Linked DNA regions of Homo sapiens. The protein of the gene in region 2 interacts with the protein of the main gene of each other region in a biochemical or structural test. Each region holds a gene or a part of one and is shown on either strand. Other genes may lie near its edges.

Region 1 (8,804 bases), on a different chromosome or scaffold from region 2:
CCTAGAAAAACTGCAAGGTCAGCTCTGACCTTGGCCCTGATACAAAAGTTGGGAAATACATCACTCACATTGAATTTGGAAAGAAGCCTGCTGAGTGAGAAAACTCTAGTTGCAGCCTCCCAATTCATCATTCACAATTCACAGCGGGGCACAGGGCTGCACTTTCTGCAGGGGAACTGTGACTTCAAATTGCAAGGGACCATAGTTGTCAAGACACCAAAACGCCTTTCCCCCTACTCAGCTCCATGGAGAAAACCCAGAGTCTTGTTTTAATAAAAGAAATATGATGATGAAGGAAATCTGTGAAAGCTCAGGCTGTGTACTCTTCCAAGTCACTATATATAAGGTTAATTGTCACACAGTCACCAGTTGCTGTTTGTGTGGTAGAGGTGGAGGCATCCTCCCTAAATACCAGCCTCTGTTTTTAGATTTAATCAAGGATGAAGGGAGAGAGTAGTAATAATAATAATTAACAATAATAAAATCACCAATATTGAGTATTTCCTTTTTGCCAGGACCTACGCTAAGCCCTTTTTTAGCAATATGGTATCGTCACAAACTCTAGTCAGACCACTTGTGTTTGAATGAGAGAAACACCATGCAGCAGCTAAGACACCTTAGGCAGGTGATTTAACCTGTGTCTTAGTTTCCTCACCTGAAAATGGGGATAATAATAGCACCCCATGGAATCATTATGCAAATTAAATATATGTAAAGTGCTTAGAATAGTGTTGGGCACATTACCATATAAATGCATGATGCCCAGTGAAGTCTGAATTTCTGATAAACAACCACCTTTTAGAATAAGTAGGTACCAAATAGTCCATGAGACATACACCAGAAAAAGTAGTCATTGTGTATCTGCAATCAAATTTCACTAAGCATCCTGTATGTACGTATGTATGTAGTTAGCTAAATCTGGGAACTGTAATTCCACAATCACTTATCTGAAACTCTTGAGGTTAGATATGTTTCAGAGCTCATAGATTTTTCAGATTTTAGAAAATAAATACATTGCATATAACCACAGATCATGTAATACTTCAGCAATGGCTGGAGTGGCAGGCCTGAAGCAAGTGCATTAATGTTTCTATAGGGAAACATATGCATATTCTTGTAAGTAGGATAAATGAAATCTGAAGCAGCCTCACATGAGTTAAGATCCAATTTTGCCATCAAAGGAATTGAGATCAGGCCCCCATCTTGCCAACTGAGAGTTACATCGTTTTCTGGGTTTGGGGTTAAGAATCAGCATTGTGAACCTAAATTACTGCTACTACCATTATTATTTTCTTTTTCTAATTTTTTTTTTTTGAGGCGGAGTCTCACTATGTTGCCCAGGCTGAACTGCAACCTCCCCCTTGGGGTTGAAGTGCAGATTCAACCTGCAATCTCGGCTCACTGCAACCTCCACCTCCCAGGTTCAAGTGATTGTCCTGCCTCGGCCTCCCAGGTAGCTGGGATTACAGACTTGCGCCACCACGCCTGGCTAATTTTTGTATTTTTAGTAGACATGGAGTTTCACCATGTTGGCCAGACTGGTCTTGAACTCCTGGCCTGAAGTGATCTGTCCGCCTCAGCGTCCCAAAGTGCTGGGGTGGCAGGCGAGAGCCACCGTGCCCAGTCCATTATTATTTTCTTTTATTCTCACGACTAGTATAAGTAAAACCTGTTATTCCCATTTCACACTTGGTGAGACTGAGGCTTAGCGTGGCTATATATTTAGCCCAGGATCATGTGGCTTGTAAATAGCTAAATCATGCTTCAAACCCAGTCAGCCTGTCTGCCCTTATCTGTGATCATGAGCATGCATGCCCTTTCCTTGTTTCTTTGCATTCTTTGCACAGCTCTTATTTTGAAAGAGGGATTAAAATAAGAGGACACAGAGAAGAGGAGAGTTATGGAGAGGAAGCATCTCAGAAGTGGTTGGCACCTGCTCAGAAATGGTCCAGAAGGCGATCAAACACTCTAGTCTTCTGAACTTTCAGCATGCACGCCCACGCACGCACAGCCTCTTGTTTAAGGCCCTGGCTTGGCCGTAATTCTCCTGCCATGTGTACTCACAGCTGTTCTGCAGACCCCTGGGCACACTGAGGCTCACGTTACACTAAAGAGAACTGGGTCTTTGGTGAGCCTTTCACTCCAGAAACAGCAAAATCAATATTTTTTTTCAACATTAGAAAGCCATTCGCCAATGTGAAAATTAAAAACAGGACAGCAAGGCAGAACACACTAGCTGGCAGAAGGCAACATCTTTGAATGTCAGTCTGTAAGTTTTAGTCTTGCATTATTATGATTCATAATACAGAACTAAAACTCATGAAATAAGTGGCCTTCCATACAAAAAAGTGTTCTAAACTCAAGTTGAAAATTTATGAGCTCAAAAATTCCCATTTCACACATCTGCAAGAACCCCACCACAGCCAAAGCACCAGGTGACATAAACTCTAAAACCTGTCCTGATAGTTCCGCCTGCTCTCTCACCCCACTCCATGACAATCTCTCACCACTGGAGAAAACCTCAGGTCAACTACTCAAGCCTGGAGCAGGAAAGGGCCTGGGAGTTCTCAGATAGTTCCAGGGCCAAAAAGAGTTGCCTGGCATGGCCCCATATCACCAAGGAAAAGACGGAAAGGAGCCAGACATGGACACGAAGTCCAGCTCTGCTACTAACTCAGGATGAGACCCTGGGCAGTTATTTAGCCTCCAGAAGCCTCCATTTCCTCATCTGTCAGTGAGGCTGGTGATAGCACTGACTTCATAGGGGTCTTATGAAGGTTTTATGAGATGGTGCCTGTAAGGCACTCAACACACAGCCTGGTTAAAATATATATATATATATATATATATATATATATATATAGAGAGAGAGAGAGAGAGAGAGAGATCACTTAAGAATGGAACAAAAAAAGAACTCTACTAACATAATTATCTAAGCCACTACCTTTGTATAAGGTCTCCGAATTTACAAGCTCTTTCACCTAAGTGTTTCCCATCTCAATAAACACCACTGCCCAACCATCACCAAAAATCTAAGCGTCACCCACAATTGTCTGCTTTTGTTCACAGCCTGCATCGAATCCTTCAATAGGCCCTCTACCTCCTAAACCTTCCCCCATTCTCCCTCTCCATCTCTTGAATTCAAGACAGCATCGTCTGTCACCTGGCGTACAGAAATAAACCTACTTGAGTCACCTTCTTCTATTCTTGCTCCCTATGGTCTCTTCTCCATCAAGAAAGACTCCCTCTAACTGAGCCCTCCACCGAGACATCTTTTGAAATGCTCCTAAGATGTATTCTCTTTCATAAAAGCCTCCAGAGGCTTTCGAGCACACTTAAGGAAAGCCCAAACTCACTGGCACTTGGGTCCCCCATTGACTCCTCATCACTTGCACCTCACCTAGCAAGCTCCTCCCGTTCCTCAAGTCCACCAAGTTCATGCTTCTATGCACCCTTTGCCCCATCTGTTCCCCCCACCTGGAAAGCCCTTGCCTCAGTCTTCACACAGCAGTTCCCTCCTCATCATTCAAAGGTCACCTCCAAGGTCATGTCCTCCGGCTTTTCAATCTAGCCATCCTGTCACTTGCTATCACATTGTTCTATCTTTTTTTTAATTTTCTCTATAACATTTTCCACTGACTGATATTCCTCTTTCTTTCTTTCAGAGATGGGGTCTCACTAATTTGCCCAGGCTGGCCTCCAACTCCAGGGCTCAAGCCTCAGCCTCCCATGTGGCTGGAACTAAAGGCACGTGTCACCACACCCAGTTTCATAATTTTCTCATTGTATTAATTGCCTTATTGTCTTTCTTCCCATACCTGGTTCACTGCTCTATTTCCAAAACCTAACTCAGTACCTCATGTGCAACAAATATTTGGTGAATTTGTTCATTAACCTTTTAAGGCCAAGAGGAAAGTGAAAGGGCCACATGCTTGTTTGATGACTTTCCTTTTGGAAAAAGGAAAAAAGTGTCCCTGCCCACTTAAAGAATGAGGGTGAGGGCTAGAATCTGGCTCCCTGAAATCTAGGCCCTAACACTGATTTAGGAGGGAAATCTAATAGCTGTGTGTGGGACCCCCAGGTTTCCCCTCACCTCCCCACCGCCGCTTTCGGTGTCCTAACCAAAAATTACACAATCCCCTGACCACTCTGTGACCCAGCCACCTGCAGGTTTGTTTTGTTTTGTTTTTTTTGAGACAGAAGTTCCCTCTGTCACCGAGGCTGGAGTGCAATGGTGCAATCTCAGCTCACTGCAGCCTCCGCCTCCTGGGCTCAAGCAATTCTCATGCCTCAGCCTCCCGAGTAACTGAGATTACAGGCATGAGCCACCATGCCCGGCTAATTCCAGCTGCTGGTTTTTCCCAGCAGGCTTAGGTCCAGACTGGACCCTTGAACATTCCCAGGCACTGATAAAGGTATCTAGGTTGATGCACAAAACACTGAAAGAAACTAGTACCGGCTCTGAGCCAAATTCCTTAAACCCGCATATAGTCTCCACACCCTAATGCCCTAAGTAGAACACCCCTTTTCTCTCACTGTCTTGAGGATACACTGCAGCACTTTCAACATAAGTTGCACTAATAAATGCTTTGGACTGACCGGCCGCCCTGGCATTTATTTAGTGCTTCTTTCTTTGGAATCCCAACTGGCCCCATCTCGGGATGGGATATTCCCTCATGGGAATTTCCCTGTTGCTGCTTTTGGGGCAACTCCAGCCATGAGTTTGATGGGATAAGACACTGTGGCAAAACTGCGGCCACTTTAAACACTCATCTTCACCCTGGGATATCCACTGATACACAGCCTGGTCACCTCAAGAGAAGTTTGACTTGCAACGTGTGACAGAAAAAAGAGATTCCCAGCCGGGCACAGTGGCTCTTGCCTGTAATCCCAGCACTTTGGGAGGCCAAGGCGGGTGGATCACTTGAGGTCAGGAGTTCGAGATCAGTGTGGCCAACAAGGTGAAACTCCGTCTCTACTAGAAATACAAAAATCAGCCGGGCGTGGTGGTGGGCACTTGTAATCCCAGCTACTAGGGAGGCTGAGGCAGGAGAATCACTTGAGCCCAGGAGGTGGAGGATGCAGTGAGCTGAGATCGTGCCAGCCTGGGCGACAGAGCAAGACTCCGTCTCAATTTTTAAAAAAGAGAAAAGGGACTCCCACTGACAATGGAAGCGTGGATTTATTTGCAAAGGAGCCTTGCTTAGAGGCAGGCAAGTCAGACCCACAGACCAGAAGATAGGCAACTGCTTAAGGTAAAGAGGAATTCATAGCCAGCGGAGCCATAGGAAGACCAATGTTCTCTGCCTGTGGGTCTTAAGAGAGGCCATTCAGCCTTCCAAGCCCCTTCCTGATTTCCTTGTAACAACGCTTAGAATACCACAGTTTTTGCAAGGAAAAAGAAAACAGGAAACCTAAGCTCCACTGTTTCACACCAAAACTTGAAAATAAACTTAAAATTTCTTCAAAATTGCATTTCGTACTTGGTAAACCTCAAGCAAACAGAATACTAAAAATACCACCTGTCTTCTCTTCCACTTCCCAAGGTACCATAATTATAACTTGACACAGGATGGAAAACTGTGACTTACCCGCTTCGATGCATTCTGGCTTCAGGCAGTACTCCTGTTTAGCTTGGAGACTTAAGAGACCTTGACTCACTGAAAAAACAGACCACAATAAATGGCTGAGTTGTAGCAGACCACCATCCGGTAAACCACCCTCGGAAACATACGCAAGATATTTGATATCAGTTCATCCTTCTCAGTGTTGACACGGTATTCCAAAACCCAGTTGGTTCAATGTCACGAAACCAGACTCTAGCTGCTAGCTAAATAACCTTGGTAAGACTCTTGGTTGCTTTGAAACTCAGTTCTCTCGTACGTAAGATAAGTGAGTATAACTAGACCAGAGCTCCTAAGAGTGTGGTCTCTAGAGCAGCAGCAGCTGCTGCTGCTGCACCTGGAAGCTTGTTAGAAAGCCACTCCAAGATCTTGACTCAGAAACCCTGGGGGTGGGGCCCAGCCATCTGCGGTTTAACAAGCCCCCCAGGTGATTCCGATACATGCTCAAATATGAGCACCACTGGGCGAGACACTCTCTAAAGTCGCTTCAGCCTCCAATTATCAGTGGTTTAAGTCTCATACTTTCACTCTATTGGTTTATAACTCCATGCCCATGTTCAAGATGGGAAAATTGAAACTTTTAAACTATGTCATTTGGAGCCAATCAGAGTGGAAATAGAAAGCTAGCATGTTTGGCTTTTAGAGTTCTGGATCTTATCTAAACCATCCATACAGATACGGACCAAAAAAGGGGTAGGGGTAAAGAATATACTGAACATATCTCAATCACCTATTGATAGCAACAGTCATTGTCCGCCTGCCCTGAACCCCACAAACTCTCCGCCCACCAGGCCCAGCTTAGCTACCAGACATTTGCAACTTTGTGGACCAAGCTTCCAGCTATTTCCTCCCTTCCCCCACTCCAAAAAAAAAAAAGTCTAAAATTGAAATAGCTTTTCACCAATGGCTTAATATCTCCATCTGCCTGGCAACATTATCTAAATAGGTGTCTGCAGAAGTACAGAAGGGTGCCCAATTTGTCAACCCCAGGTAGCACCTGGGCATTAGCAGATGTTAGTTTAAGATTTCAAAAGTATTTGTAGTAGCTGAGGAAATTCTGGGGAATTCATTCTTGCTGTGCTCTGTGAGCAGAAACAATGAATCATTTGGAGATGTGGCCATGGGGAGAGGGATGGTGGGAGGTGAATGGGGACCAAGGCCCTCTGTGGCAGAAAGCTCGGCAGTACCTATATTTCTGCTAGAGATGGAAGACCTGTAGATTACTACCCAGTGTGGCGAGTTTTTATTATTTATTAACCCACTCTCTAAATGGAGCCTGCTTTTCCTTTGTTCTTTTTCTCTGCTGCCATCCTCCAAACAGCCTCTTTGCATTGCATTGTGTTACATTAGAGATTCAAGAAAACTGCCGATGAAACATCTCAGTCCTATTTTTTTTTTTTTTTTCGAGACAAGAGTCTCACTCTGTCACCCAGGCTGGAGTGCAGTGGGGTGATCTTGGCTCACTGCAAGCTCTGCCTCCCGGGTTCACGCCATTCTCCTGCCTCAGCCTCCCGAGTAGCTGGGACTACAGGCACCCGCCACCACGCCCGGCTAATTTTTTTGTATTTTTTAGTGGAGATGGGGTTTCACCGTGTTAGCCAGGATGGTCTCGATCTCCTAACCTCATGATCCGCCCGCCTCGACCTCCCAAAGTGCTGGGATTACAGGTGTGAGCCACTGCGCCTGGCCCATCTCAGTCCTGTTTTTAAGAAAATAAGTTTCTTAGCAAAAAGGTGTGTTTTGATTTCTGTATAAAGCAAAAAAAAAAAAAAAGTTATGTAAAAAAATATATATGGGCAGCATAAAGATTAGTGTGCAATATTCCAATATGCCTGGGTGGCAGAACCTCAGGGGGAATTTTCCCCATCAGTCAATTTTTATATGTTGACCTAATGTTCTTTAGTGAGCATGTGTTCTTTTATATAATGCAAAAATAAGCTTTATTGTAAATAATATTTTTATAATTCTGGACAATACCTTCTTGATCCTAGCCTTATTTTAAAAAACAAAATAGCTAATAAAATCGTTAAAGACTTATTCCTTTCATGAGAGATAATTCTTGACCCAAAACCTCAAAGGAAGAAGTAAAATCAGGTATCTTTATCTAACGATGAGCAGAAGGAAGGTTTTAAATATAACTAATTAGGCCAGGCACGGTGGCTCAGGCCTGCAATCCCAGCACTTTGGGTGGCCGAGGTGGGCGGATCACCTGAGGTCAGGAGTTCGAGACCAGCCTGGCCAACATGGTGAAACCCCATCTCTACTAAAAATACAAATCTTAGCTGGGCGTGGTGGTGCACGCCTGTAATCCCAGCTACTCAGGAGGCTGAGGCAGGATAATTGCTTGAACCCAGGAGGCGGAGGTTGTAGCGAGCCAAGATCGCACCACTGCACTCCAGCCTGGGTGACAGAGTGAGACTCCGTCTCAAAAAAAAAAAAAAAAAAAAAAATATATATATATATATATATGTACGTGTGTGTGTGTGTGTGTGTGTGTGTGTGTGTATAATTAATTAATTGGGACACTGACAGACCCAACCCCTCAAGGAAGAGCATTATCTCCATGGATGGGGTTATTTTAAAATTCTCCAAATAAATGAGGATCAATAAGCCCAGATAATGTGAAGGTGTAAGTGAATGAAATAGAGACAATAAAGAAAATATTTTTAATATAAAAATTAAGATGTTACTTTTGAATGGTTAGGAGCTTTAAAAAATACATGTAAATAGCAGTTTGGTTTCTCATTGTAGATTTCTCTATAACCAGAGGAAATGCCCTTAGGATGCAGTGGAGTCATCCACAGATCAAGAGCATAAGAATGGCCAGAAAGCAGGGGTCAGCAAACTATGGCCTGTAGGTCAAATCCATTGCCTGTTTCTGTACAGCCCATGAGCTATGAATGGCTTTTACATTTTTTTCATGGTCAGGAAAAATAAAAAGGAAAATAATATTTCATGACATATGAAAAGTATATAACATTCCAATTTCAGTGTCTAGAAATCAGATTTTCTTGGCACACAGCCATGCCCATTTGTGTACATATTGTCTATGGATGCTTTTGTGCAACAACAGCAGAATTGAGTAGTTGCAAGAGGCCGTATGGCCCACAGAGCCAAATATATTCACTATCTATCTGGCTCTTGGCAGAAAAAGTTTGCCAGCCAGTGCATCTGAGAAAC
Region 2 (11,620 bases):
TGGATCAATCATATAAAAGAGAGAACCCCTTAAGGGAAAGATTGAATAAAGAGATAAACAGAAAGAGGGCCGCCTAGGCCAGCTGTCCTATTTACCTGGAAAGTGTTCTTCCTGAAGAAGCCTTAAGCTTCTATATTTTGTTTAATACAGACAGGTTGTTGCTTGCACTAAGATATTGGGAATGCCCCTGCTTGCTCTCAGCTCCTTTGTATCTCCAGCTCAATCTGAACTGATTCCTTCATTTCCCAAGCTCATTTGCCCTCTGTGTTCAGACTGGGTTTGGGTGAAGGAGGCCTGGCATGAGTCTGGAGGGGGGGAAGGAGAGAGAAGCCAGGGTATGTCCTTCTCTACTCTCCGTGTTTGGGGCTGCATCTCTAGAGTTGGGTACATCTCCTTTGTGGTCCTAGTTCCCCCAGCCAGGGGCCTAGGAGCAGCACCTTTTTTTTTCCTTCCAGCCCTAAGCCTGGTAATAGCTTCGATCCTTGGGTGGTCTCACCACCCCTGGTTGGCTTTTCTGTTCTTCCTTATACTTTATAGCTAGCTTCCCTTAGAAAGTCGCTCTACTGAGCTCCCTGTAGTGGATTTTGTTTTCTGGACTGGACTCTGGCAGATAAAATCATCTTCAAAATATAAAACTCAGAAGTTTAGAAAGCACCTCCATGGCTGGACTCCAAGGCATAGCTGCCTAATATTCAATTCCATTCTAGAAAATAACAATAGTTTATCAATAACACCTTCTATTTATAGGACTCTTTATAGTTTGTAAACTGCTTTTGTACTTATAATCTCATATGAGTCCCAAAGTAACCTTTATAAGATGAGCAGTAGAAGAAACAGAAGTGCCTACACTCATAGTTGGTAGTTGCAGTAGAAGTAGAGAAGATATTTTAATTTAAATCTTCTGCCTCAAAGTCCCAGGGTTAAAATAATAAATTTTTGAATGATTAAATATGAAAAAGCATTTAGTAATAAGAGGAAATGTTCCTAAACTTTATATTAATTATCGTCAAGGCATCTTTTATAGTTTTATCCTTTATTGCATTTCTTATGTTGATTCTTATATGATCATGTGAATATAAATTTGGACAATTATATCACTCTTCAAAAATATAAAACCAGGGCAAACAGTTCTGGAAATTGGACTATAGGAAGAAGAAAGCATAAAAATGAGATGGGCAGATATTAAGCAAAAGAAAGAAATGATAGTATGGGGTGTCAGGGATCTTCTTACAGAACACACACACACACACACATATGGATTAGAAACATACTTGACAATATAGAGTACCTCGGTACAGTTTTGATTTATTGTGACTTATAACAAAGTCTTTCTAGTCTAACTGCATCTTGATGAATATTAACCGAATTGCATAGCCTAATAAACATTCATTTTCTTCCTTTTAAAAATCATTTAGAATTTGGCTTATAATTCTAAGACGTATGCAAGTGGCTGAGTATATACTAATTTCTTAAGCCACCAATCTATCATTTAAAAATTCAGGTAATTACTAAAATGGCATCTATATACCTGGAAGAAAACATCATATTTAATGATTCACAGTTACAAATGTTGCCTCTGCATCCTTGCTGAGCTGCTTTCATTTGAAATACGCATCCCTCCCTTGTCCCCTCTATACCCCCAAGCAGATGTCTTAGGCTTGAATGTGGCCCTGTAATGGAGATGGCATTGTCTGCCTCTGGGCAGGAAAGCTGGCATCCTCTTCTGATCAGTGGTCACTGAATCAATGTTGACATAGCACATTTACTGGAAAATGATGAGAAAGCCCCACTCCAGCTGCTTCTTGGAACATGTTGCTCAAAATAAAATCTTCAGCTGGCCAACTTGAGCTAGGTCAGCAAGACTCATTTTTCCACCGTGAGAGGTGGGAGAGGCACCTGAGCCTCTAGGCCTTGATTGAGTGAGGTCTGTGCATGGGGTCTCGCAAATGTGTGTTGTGAGCAGTACAGCCTCCACAGTACTGTACTGCACACCCTTGTTGCACAGAGTGTGTGCGGAGAAGGGAACACATTTCCCCAACTTCCACTGCCCTCCATGAGGCCCTCTGCTTCCCTGGTCATCCTCATCAGCCTGGTTACCCTAGCAGTCACCCACTCACTCAGGACCTATATATAAGTATGATTGGCAATGGGATGACTATTTGTTTCCATGGTTCTCCAACCAAAAAGGTTATTCTGATAAGTTAGGATGCTGCTCAGACATTATCTAATTAGCACTGTGTCTGCATTGCAGAAAATAACTAACACTCAGCATTTTCACAAGATAATTTGGTCACATCCTGAATATTCAACTGGGTGAGTCAGAGGGAAGAAAAGACACACAAGGAAGTAGGAGCTTGATTTGGGTTAAGCTTGGAGGTACTACGTCCCACCTCTAGCCTCGCTGATGAAGAGAAAATCACAAGTAGGATCCCACAGTATTGGGGTGTTGCAAGAAATACAGAAGAGTTCTTGTCTCTTTGCATTTTTATCTATTTACTAAATCTAGCTGGTTAGCTTTAAAACATTCATGTCAAATTCTTTAAGTTTACAGGAAAATAGTCAAAGATTATTTTACCATGTTATAATTTGAGTCTTTGAGTATCACTCATTAGTATCAGCTGATTTGAAATGCTGCGGCTGCCTCTTGGTTTTCTCAAAAAATCTGTTTTTGGTGTTCCTTAAAAGACAATGTTGTCAGATCTCATAATTCAGCACATGTTTATTGAGAACCTCCTTTGTTAAGAGTGTTAAGTGCTAGATGCTTTCTGTTTGCTTGGTTCTTTTTAAAATAACTGAATTAGGTAGATGCTACTAATTTAAATAGACGTTGCTTGAAAGAAAAACAAATGAAGAGAGCAAGAGATTATCTGAAATATAATTGAATTTGTAAATACTTACTGGTGCTGCCCAGGTCACACTGAAAAGGAGTAGTCCCACACAGAAAACTCGCATCTTTGAGAATCTCTGTAAAAAGACAACAATATCTTACCACAAAGCATTGCCAGTTATAAACTGCAGCCATAAGAAGAGATAAAACACATAGGAATATATAAACACCCTTCCCCTTGGCAGTTCATATCCTTTTGTGTATGTGTGTGTATAGACTATGTATAACTTGCTTATACCCGAGTGTGGACATTTTAAGAACTTTCATATGTCTAGTTATTCCAATGTGAAAATGAAAATTATTCAATATCATTAAAACAGTAAAGTCAGTTGATAGAAATATATTTTATAGACACATTTATTTGCTCTATCATCAGCTCTTCTTCCTCTTGTCTTTAGAAAGAGATTGTTTAATTATTTGTGTAATTCAAAATGACATTAAGTTGATGTAGCAGCTCATAACACACTCTAAGTTTGTCAGGGTAGCAGATTGCACTGTGAGGAAAGCTTATCTGCCTCCGGGCTGGTGCCCTAATCTGTGTCTCATGTTCATTAGCAATGTGTCTGAATTAGTAGCCATCCATGGGCTGGAGAGTGAACTAATTTTTGCAACACTGACATTAATGGCTAACATTTATTGAATACTAAAATGAGCCAAGCACTGGGTCTAAGAATTTTGCATGCATTCAATTATTTGAGCCTCACAACAACCCTACAAGTTAGGCGGCGTTACTATGCCTGTTGTATAGATTAGGAAATAGACACAAAAAGATCAAATAACTTGCTTTAGAATTCACAAATATTAAGGGGCAGAACTGGGATTAGTATCCAGGCAATGTGGCTCTAGACCCAGTTTTCTTCATCAAGACTCTCTGCCACCTTAAATAACTTTCTATTCTTTTATCTTATTACAGAAAAATCCATGTACAGTTGACTTAAAGGCAAATCATATTTTATATTGGGCTCAACAAAATGATGTTCAAAATACTAACATTTAGTTACAAATAAAGGTATTTGTTTATATTTTGGTAAATATACCAACAGGAACTAGTGAGCTCACTTAAGTAGCCATTAGATTGGAAAAAAGTCAACATGTCTTTGGACTATTGATCTTATTATTATATTGTGAAAACAATAAATTTATGCCACTCTGAGATTTCTTGAAGAAAAACTTGTTTTTATGGGAAAAAATAATCTAAATATTCTTGCAATCTTTAAACACCTCAAGGAAAAGCTGGTATTTGGAGAAATGATTGTAACTATTAAATATATTCTAAAATCCTAGGCTATGTTTTTCTAAATTAATGCAATTAGAAGGATCTAAATTCTAACTATAGTTTACCCTTCCAAGCATTTTATAGATCAGGACAACGTAAGTAACTTATGAAATGAGTTAATGCTCATCAGTAGAAATATCAACACAGATGAGGTTTCAAAGTATGAATAAGATCAGATTTTCCTGATTGCAGTTTGTTAAGTGAAGGGATAGAAGAAAACTGAAGTCTGAGTTACTGTGGATCTTGATAATGCTAATAACAAAAAAAAAGAGAAAGTTGCTATCAAATCATCAATTTTAGTTGATGATTTCTAGAGCATGGTAACGCATTTCCTATTTTATAAAACAAAGCACCAAATATTACACAGTTTTGCTCAGTAGAGAAGATTTTCAAAAGTAATAAAACCATACTTGGGTGGCAAGCATCTTAAAAACGTAAACAACTATGATATAAAGCTATTTGCTGTCAAGAACATGAAAGCCAAATTACCTGGTATCTTTCACCTTCAGAATACCTGGCTTCTTGTTGCAGGATTAGAAGTCTCTGGGCATTTTGCTGAAATTTAAAGTTTGTTAGAGTTCCCAATGGCCAATCAGCACTGGCTCACTCAGCGCTAGCAAACAATTTGTTACAAGCGCCCACAGATAACCATAGGGGGTGAAGTAATTTTAATCTAAAAATGTGTTTGTGGTAGAAAGCTACTATCAAATGTTCCAGAAAGTGGGATAAACAGAAAATATAAATACCTCAGTTTGGACATCATGTTGTCAGATAATCAAAATTGATTTCAGAACTGCTAATTAGGACTGACTGAATACCTAACAAGTTTAGAAATGGAAAACATTTTTGCTATCCTTTTATGTAGAAAGTTTATGATGTCAATTTTATCTAAGTGAAATTCAGCAACATTTAACAAAAATGTTTTAGGTGCCTACTGTGTGACAGGCATTGGCGAAACTGCAGTGAACAAAACAAGACAGAAAAAAATCCCTGTCTTCCTGGAGCTTAGAATCCAATAAGGGAGACAGATAATAAACAAGATAAATGAGTTAAATAGATTAGATAGTGACATATACTAAGTCTAAGGAGAAAAAGTATTGTTGGGGAGTAACAAGCATTGGGGGTGGGGACACTGGGTTGAAATTTTAGATAGGAAGTCCTGGGAAGGCCTCAATGAGAAGGCAACTTTTGAGTAAAGACCTTGTTATGGTTTCAATGTACGTGTCCCTCCAAAATTCCCATGTTAGAACTTAAACCCAAGGTGACAGTATTGAGAGATGGGCTCTTTAGAAGGTGATTAAGTCATGAAGGCAGACCCCAGTATGAATGGGATTAATGACCTTATAAAAGGGCAAGAAGAAACTAGCTAGTCCCTTTTTGCCCTTCTGCTTGTCTGCAGTGTGAAGACACAGCATTTGTCCCCTCTGGAGATGCAGTAGCAAGGTGCCAAATTGGAAGAAGAGATAGACAGCCCTCGTCAGGCAATGAACATGCTGGCCTCTTCATTGCGGAATTCCCAGCCTCCAGAACTGTGTGAAATAAATTTCTGTTTTTTATAAATTACCCAGTCTGTGGTATTCTGTAGTAGCAGCATGAACAGACTCAGATAAGCCTGCAGCCATATGACTGTCTATGGGAAGACCATTCCAGGAAGAAGAAATAAGAAAAATAGTGCCCCAGAAATAAAAGCCTTGTGACTTGTTCCAGGAACAGAGAAGAGGCCACTTTGGTTGGAGGCCTGAGCAAGGGGAATAGCAACAAATGAGGTCAGAAGGGTATTAGATGGCAGATGGTATAGGACCTGTAGGTCATTGCAATGCTTTTGACATTGCTATGAGTGAGAAGAAAAGTCCTTGGAGGTTTTAAGCACAGGCATGATTGAGGAGTGACTGAAGTAGGAAAAAGGCAGAGAGAATGGCTAGGAAGCTCTTGTAATAATCCCAGCCAGAGATGATGGAGGCTTGAACCTGAGTGCGGCAGAAGGGATGATGAGACGTGGTCATATTCTGAAGAAGTTTGGGGAAAAATGGTAATAGGATTTGCTGAGGTACCAGATGTGGCCTGTGAGAAAACAATCAAGAATCAGGATGACACCAAGGTTTTGACCTGAGCAACTGGAAGAGTAAAGTTGATTTTTTCTTCATATTGGAAAAAATGCAGAAGAAAATGGTTTTGAGGAAAATATTGTGAGTTTGGATTTAGACAAATTTTATAAGATGGACAATTTAAGACACTCAATTTCTTAATGAAACAAGTAACAAACCTATACTAGAATAAGCCTTTCCAGTGCGATTGCCTGCTCTCTTGTTTTGCCCAAACTGGCTACCAAAATAATTGTAATAGTTTGAGAGGTTCCACTTAATATAAAAATATTATAATACCTGTAAAGGTCATTGACATTATGACTATATATTAAAGCATCAATAAGAAATTATGTAAGAGTTATTTAACCTATACTTTGTGATAAGAACTACCTACAGTGAAACACACCTTTAACAGTTGTATATTATATATACAAATGATATATAATAAGATTTAAGTGTAAACTGTCAATTTATCTCAACCCTCCAAATAGACAAAAACCAAAACATAAAACACAAACAAAACAGTATTTCATAAGTTCTACCTGAGAAAATGGTGCCTTTTCTAGGTCAAGCTAACTCTCTCTTTTTTTTTTTTTATCATATCTAAATTCTGCTGTTCCTCTTTTGAGTATCCAGAGCTGCTTTTCCTCCTCTCCCTCACCTCATGTCTTCTTGTTAAAAAAATTTTTATTTAGGTTTGGAGGTACATGTGAAGGTTCATTACATAGATAAACACATGTCCCTGGGGTTTGTTGTACATATTACTACATCACCCAGGTATTAAGCTCAGTACCCAATAGTTATCTTTTCTGTTCCTCTCCTTCTTCCCACCCTTCACCCTCAAGTAGACCCCAATGTCTGTTGTTTCCTTCTTTGTGTTCATAAGTTCTTATCATTTAGCTCCCACTTATAAGTGAGAACATGTGGTATTTGGTTTTCTGTTCCTGCGTTAGTTTGCTGAAGATAATGGCCTCCAGCTCCAGCCATGTTCCCACAAAGGACATGATCTCTTTCATTTTTATAGCTGCATAATATTCCATGGTGTATACATACCACATTTTCTTTATCCAGTCTGTCACTGATAGGCATTTAAGTTGATTCCATGTCTTTCCCATTGTGAACAGGGCTGCAATGAACAGCCGTGTGCATGTGTCTTTATGGAAGAATGTGTTATATTCCTCCGGGTATATACCCAGTAATGGGATTACTGGATCAAACAGTAGTTCTGCTTTTACAGAACTGCTTTTAAGAACATCTTCCAGGACTAGGTTTGAGCTATTGGGTGGGGCCACTGTTGACTTACAACCATTCAAGCATAGATTTTAGAATATTTGAATATTGTCATTGACAGTGGAAATATTGAACTCTAGAACTCTAGTAGCTTTGGAGGCAAACAGACTTGAGTTCAAATCCTGACTCTACCACCTGTTTACTGTGGCAAGTTGATTAAACAACTAATTTGAACTTTTCTGTGCCTCAGTTTCTCCAACTGAAAATAAGGAGCACAGTATCCATGACCAGAATTTCAGCAAAGTCCAAAAAAAAAAAAAAAAAGGATTTGGGTGATATAGAAAGGAGCTAACAAGGGAATGGAAGTCAAGGAAGGAAAGAAGGCAACAAAGAGTGTTCAGCCAACTCTGAGACTGAATGGAAATATAGAGCTTTCTAAATGGAAGACAAGTGAAATCCACAAAAAATGCTCATTTTCAACTTTGGATATGCTATTGAAGCAATAAATAATTCAGGAATTTCTATAATAATGTGTATATAATGCAGTGTTTTAAGCTGTTACACTGTTTCATAACATTAACTTTATATTTTGAATGATCCAGTTATAGAGCAAACACTTGATATGTGCCTTAGGAAATGTTCATTTTTTTATTGCTATAATTTTATAAATAATTTCAGATATTCCTCAAATGCATTTTTCTTAGTTTCAAATAAATTTCAGTGTGCATGAAAAAGATTTCCCTTTCATTTGAGTGATGGAAAATTAATTATGATCTAGAAAAACCTGTGTTCTAGGATAAGAAAATTTATAGAGTTTTAAGAGAAAAAAACTGGCTTAGCTACTAGTCCTACCAAGGGGTGAACTGGCAGTAGCTAAATATACTGCTCTCAAAGCTAAAATGAATTCAAAGCTACATAAAAAAATTCAACTTGAGTTTTAAATTTAGAACCTACAATTGACAAAAGCAAAAAAAAATGAGAGCCTATTCTGGCTAGAAGGTTGCAGAGAAGAAATTCTGGGGAAAAAAAATTAGGAGAATGATCCTTTGCCTAAGTTCCATGCAGTAGAGATTTTTACTTCTACCCTCTTAAAACTTGCCCTCTGTGTTGAAATTGAACTTCAAAAACTCAATATAAGTTTCCTAAAGGTTATTGTATAATAGAGAGTTTTGCCATGGCATTTCTAAGGAACCAATAACTGAAGTTAAAACCAGGAGTCTGTAAAAAAAATATGTATCTTCACACCATCTCTATTTAACTGGAAAACAAAACAAAACAAAGAAAAATGGGAAACAACTGAGAAGGGAAAGAAATGGACACTTGAACTTTTTTCTGGTTCCTCGTTCCTGGTTCAAAAATGGACACCTCCACCAATGATGCACCTAGCCTGACTTTGCTGGGTCAGACTGACACACAGAGTTGCTCCTCAAAGAGAATCTGGAAGGAAGTACTCCATGGAACATGCTTCATCCTGTCGTGGGTTTTTCATTTCTTATCGATCACTTGAGTGTGAACAATCATATAAAATGCTAGCTAACTAGGAACCTATACTATCAGTTCCAGCTATTAGACTCTCACCCAGGAATAAGGCTTTTTTGTTTGTTTGTTTTATTTTCTCATCTATTTCTAGGACCCATCTTTTCTGTACTTGTGCTCTGGGATTAATTGCTTTGGTATACATTTTTTTTTAAACTTAGTATTCTAGGAAGTCCTTTTTCCCCTGCTATCATGGTCCCCAATTTATTCTTGACTCTATTAAGGTAACACATTTCTCTGTCATCATTTTAGACAGACTCACACAATACACTTTTCCATATGTTCTAACTAAAATAAGTTTCTGTTTTACATATACAATATACTTTTCTGTATGTTCTAACTTGCCAAAATAACTCTCTATCTTCTAATTTACATACATTACAAATATACAGTATTTCCCCTCCTGGATCAGTGGGGAAGTCTTTGAAGTGTTGTGAATAGAACAGAGGGGTCCATGTTGAGTAATCTCTTCTTTACCATACAGATGCTTAGATTGGTCAAGGCTTTAGGCATTTCATAGAAGTATTTACTTCCCACTGATATCCAAAATAAGAGTCCAGAATGAGTGTGCTGGGAGTCTTGCCCTGTTTTTAGCAGAAGGAATGTTTTCATTTTAAACGTGTTCATTCATGAGTATCAATAATCATCCTAAGCTCAAAAAGGTCACCTTTTCTAAAGCATCACTTACAACCAACTTTCTCCTTTACCCTCAAATTAATTTTATTTTTAGTTATTATTTTTTCTGTCAGCATTTGGGAATTTCAACAGAAGCCATAAAAATTTCAGCCAGATGCAGAATCATGGAGGGTCACAGCAGAGCATGAAGTTAGCTGTGTTCATTCCTCTGGGCTTTTTGTTTACCCATTCCTCTATTACAAGCAAAGAGAAGACATGTCAATATAATTTGCTTTTATTTTTATATTAGAGAGATGTCTTACTCCACCTTAAAATGTAACTCAGAGGATGTAGTTAAAATATAATTATAATGATGCTAGCCCTTTCCTTCAGGACATGGTGACATTGCTGGAAGTGGCTGCAAAACTTTGTTGTGTGACCTCAAGAGGAAAATATCTCTTACCCTCATAATAGTCTTTTTCAGAGGTTGCTGTTTTGTTTTTCAAGACCAAGAATCTTCTTCTCAGGATACAGAACTTGAGGACTTTTACCAGCTAGCTATTCATTGTATCGAACATGTATTAATATTTTCTTACCAAATTAGGGTGTATATCGTCTTAGCTTATTTTTAATTCCATGTTTATCTGCATTGTGTTATCATTTTATTTTATCTCTTTTTTCATGAATTCCTTAATTCTCACCAACCCAGATTTTCTCTATGCTTGTCAGTTCCTGTTCCAGTTATCTGTTGCTATAAACATACCACCTTAAAACTTTTCGTAGTTTGAAATACAAATTCACTGTTTTCTCTCAAGGTTCTGTGTGTTGACTTGGCTCAGCTGCATGATTCTCACTTGTGATTTCTCAAATGGCACAGTCAGAGATGGGGTGCAAGAGTCATCCCAAAACTTGACTGAGCTGCACATCCGATATGCCACAGTGCTTCTCCACATGATCACTCTGTCCTGCAGAATAGGCTGGACTTCCTATATGGTAGCTCAGGATTTAAAATGCTCAGTCAGAAATGGGATCTAATTAAACTAAAGAGCTTCTGCACAGCAAAAGAATCTATCATCCGAGTGAATAGACAACCCACAGAATGGGAAAAAATGTTTGCAATCTATCCATCTGACAAAGGTCTAATATCCAGAGTCTATAAGAAACTTAAACAAATTTACAAGAAAAAAACAAAAACCAACAGCCCCATTAAAAAGTGGGGAAAGAACATAATTAGACACTTTAGAAAAGAAGACATACATGTGGCCAGCAAATACGTGAAAAAAAGCTCAACATCCCCACTGATCATTACAGAAATGCAAATCAAAACCACAATGAGATACCATCTCACACGTCACAATTACTATTATTAAAAAGTCAAAAAAACAACAGATGTTGGTGAGGCTGCAGATAAAAAGGAATGCTTTTACACTGTTGGTGGGAGTATAAATTAGTTAACCATTGTGGAAGACAGTGTGGCAATTCCTCAAAGACCTAGAGGCAGAAATACCACTTGACCCAGCAATCCCATTACTGGGTATATATCCAAAGGAATGTAGCAGATCACGAGGTCAAGAGATCGAGACCATCCTGGCCAACATGTTGAAACCCCATCTCTAGCAAAAAAAAACAAAAACAAAAAACAAAAACAAAAAAAAAAACTGTTGTGGTGGTGTGCACCTGCAGTCCTAGCTACTTGGGAGGCTAAGGCAGGAGAATCCCTTGAACCCGGGAGGCAGAGGTTGTAGTGAGTGGAAATCATGGCACTGCACCCCTGCCTGATGACAGCGTAAGACTCTGTCTCAAAAAAAAAAAAAGAATATAAAGAATATAAAGCATTCTATTATAAAGAAACATGCACATGTATGTTTATTGCAGCACTATTCACAATAGCAAAGACATGAATGTGCATCAATGATATACTGGATAAAGAAAATGATATAAATGCCCATCAATGATATACTGGATAAAGAAAATGTGGCATGTGTACACCAT

What was found.
Region 1: the proteins of MEPE (region 2) and PHEX interact in a biophysical measurement, tested with the Homo sapiens proteins (one study listed by IntAct).

Annotation. Positions count from the first base shown.
Region 1 is NC_000023.11:22,035,325-22,044,128, reverse strand, and holds part of PHEX (phosphate-regulating neutral endopeptidase PHEX), read right to left. Parts: intron 5,975-8,804; exon of another isoform or gene 5,735-5,974; intron 5,661-5,734; coding exon 5,592-5,660; intron 1-5,591. UniProt on the Homo sapiens protein: Peptidase that cleaves SIBLING (small integrin-binding ligand, N-linked glycoprotein)-derived ASARM peptides, thus regulating their biological activity. Cleaves ASARM peptides between Ser and Glu or Asp residues.
Region 2 is NC_000004.12:87,826,047-87,837,666, reverse strand, and holds the start of MEPE (matrix extracellular phosphoglycoprotein isoform a precursor), read right to left. Parts: upstream 4,699-11,620; 5' UTR 4,653-4,698; intron 2,965-4,652; 5' UTR 2,953-2,964; coding exon 2,899-2,952; intron 1-2,898. UniProt on the Homo sapiens protein: Promotes renal phosphate excretion and inhibits intestinal phosphate absorption. Promotes bone mineralization by osteoblasts and cartilage mineralization by chondrocytes.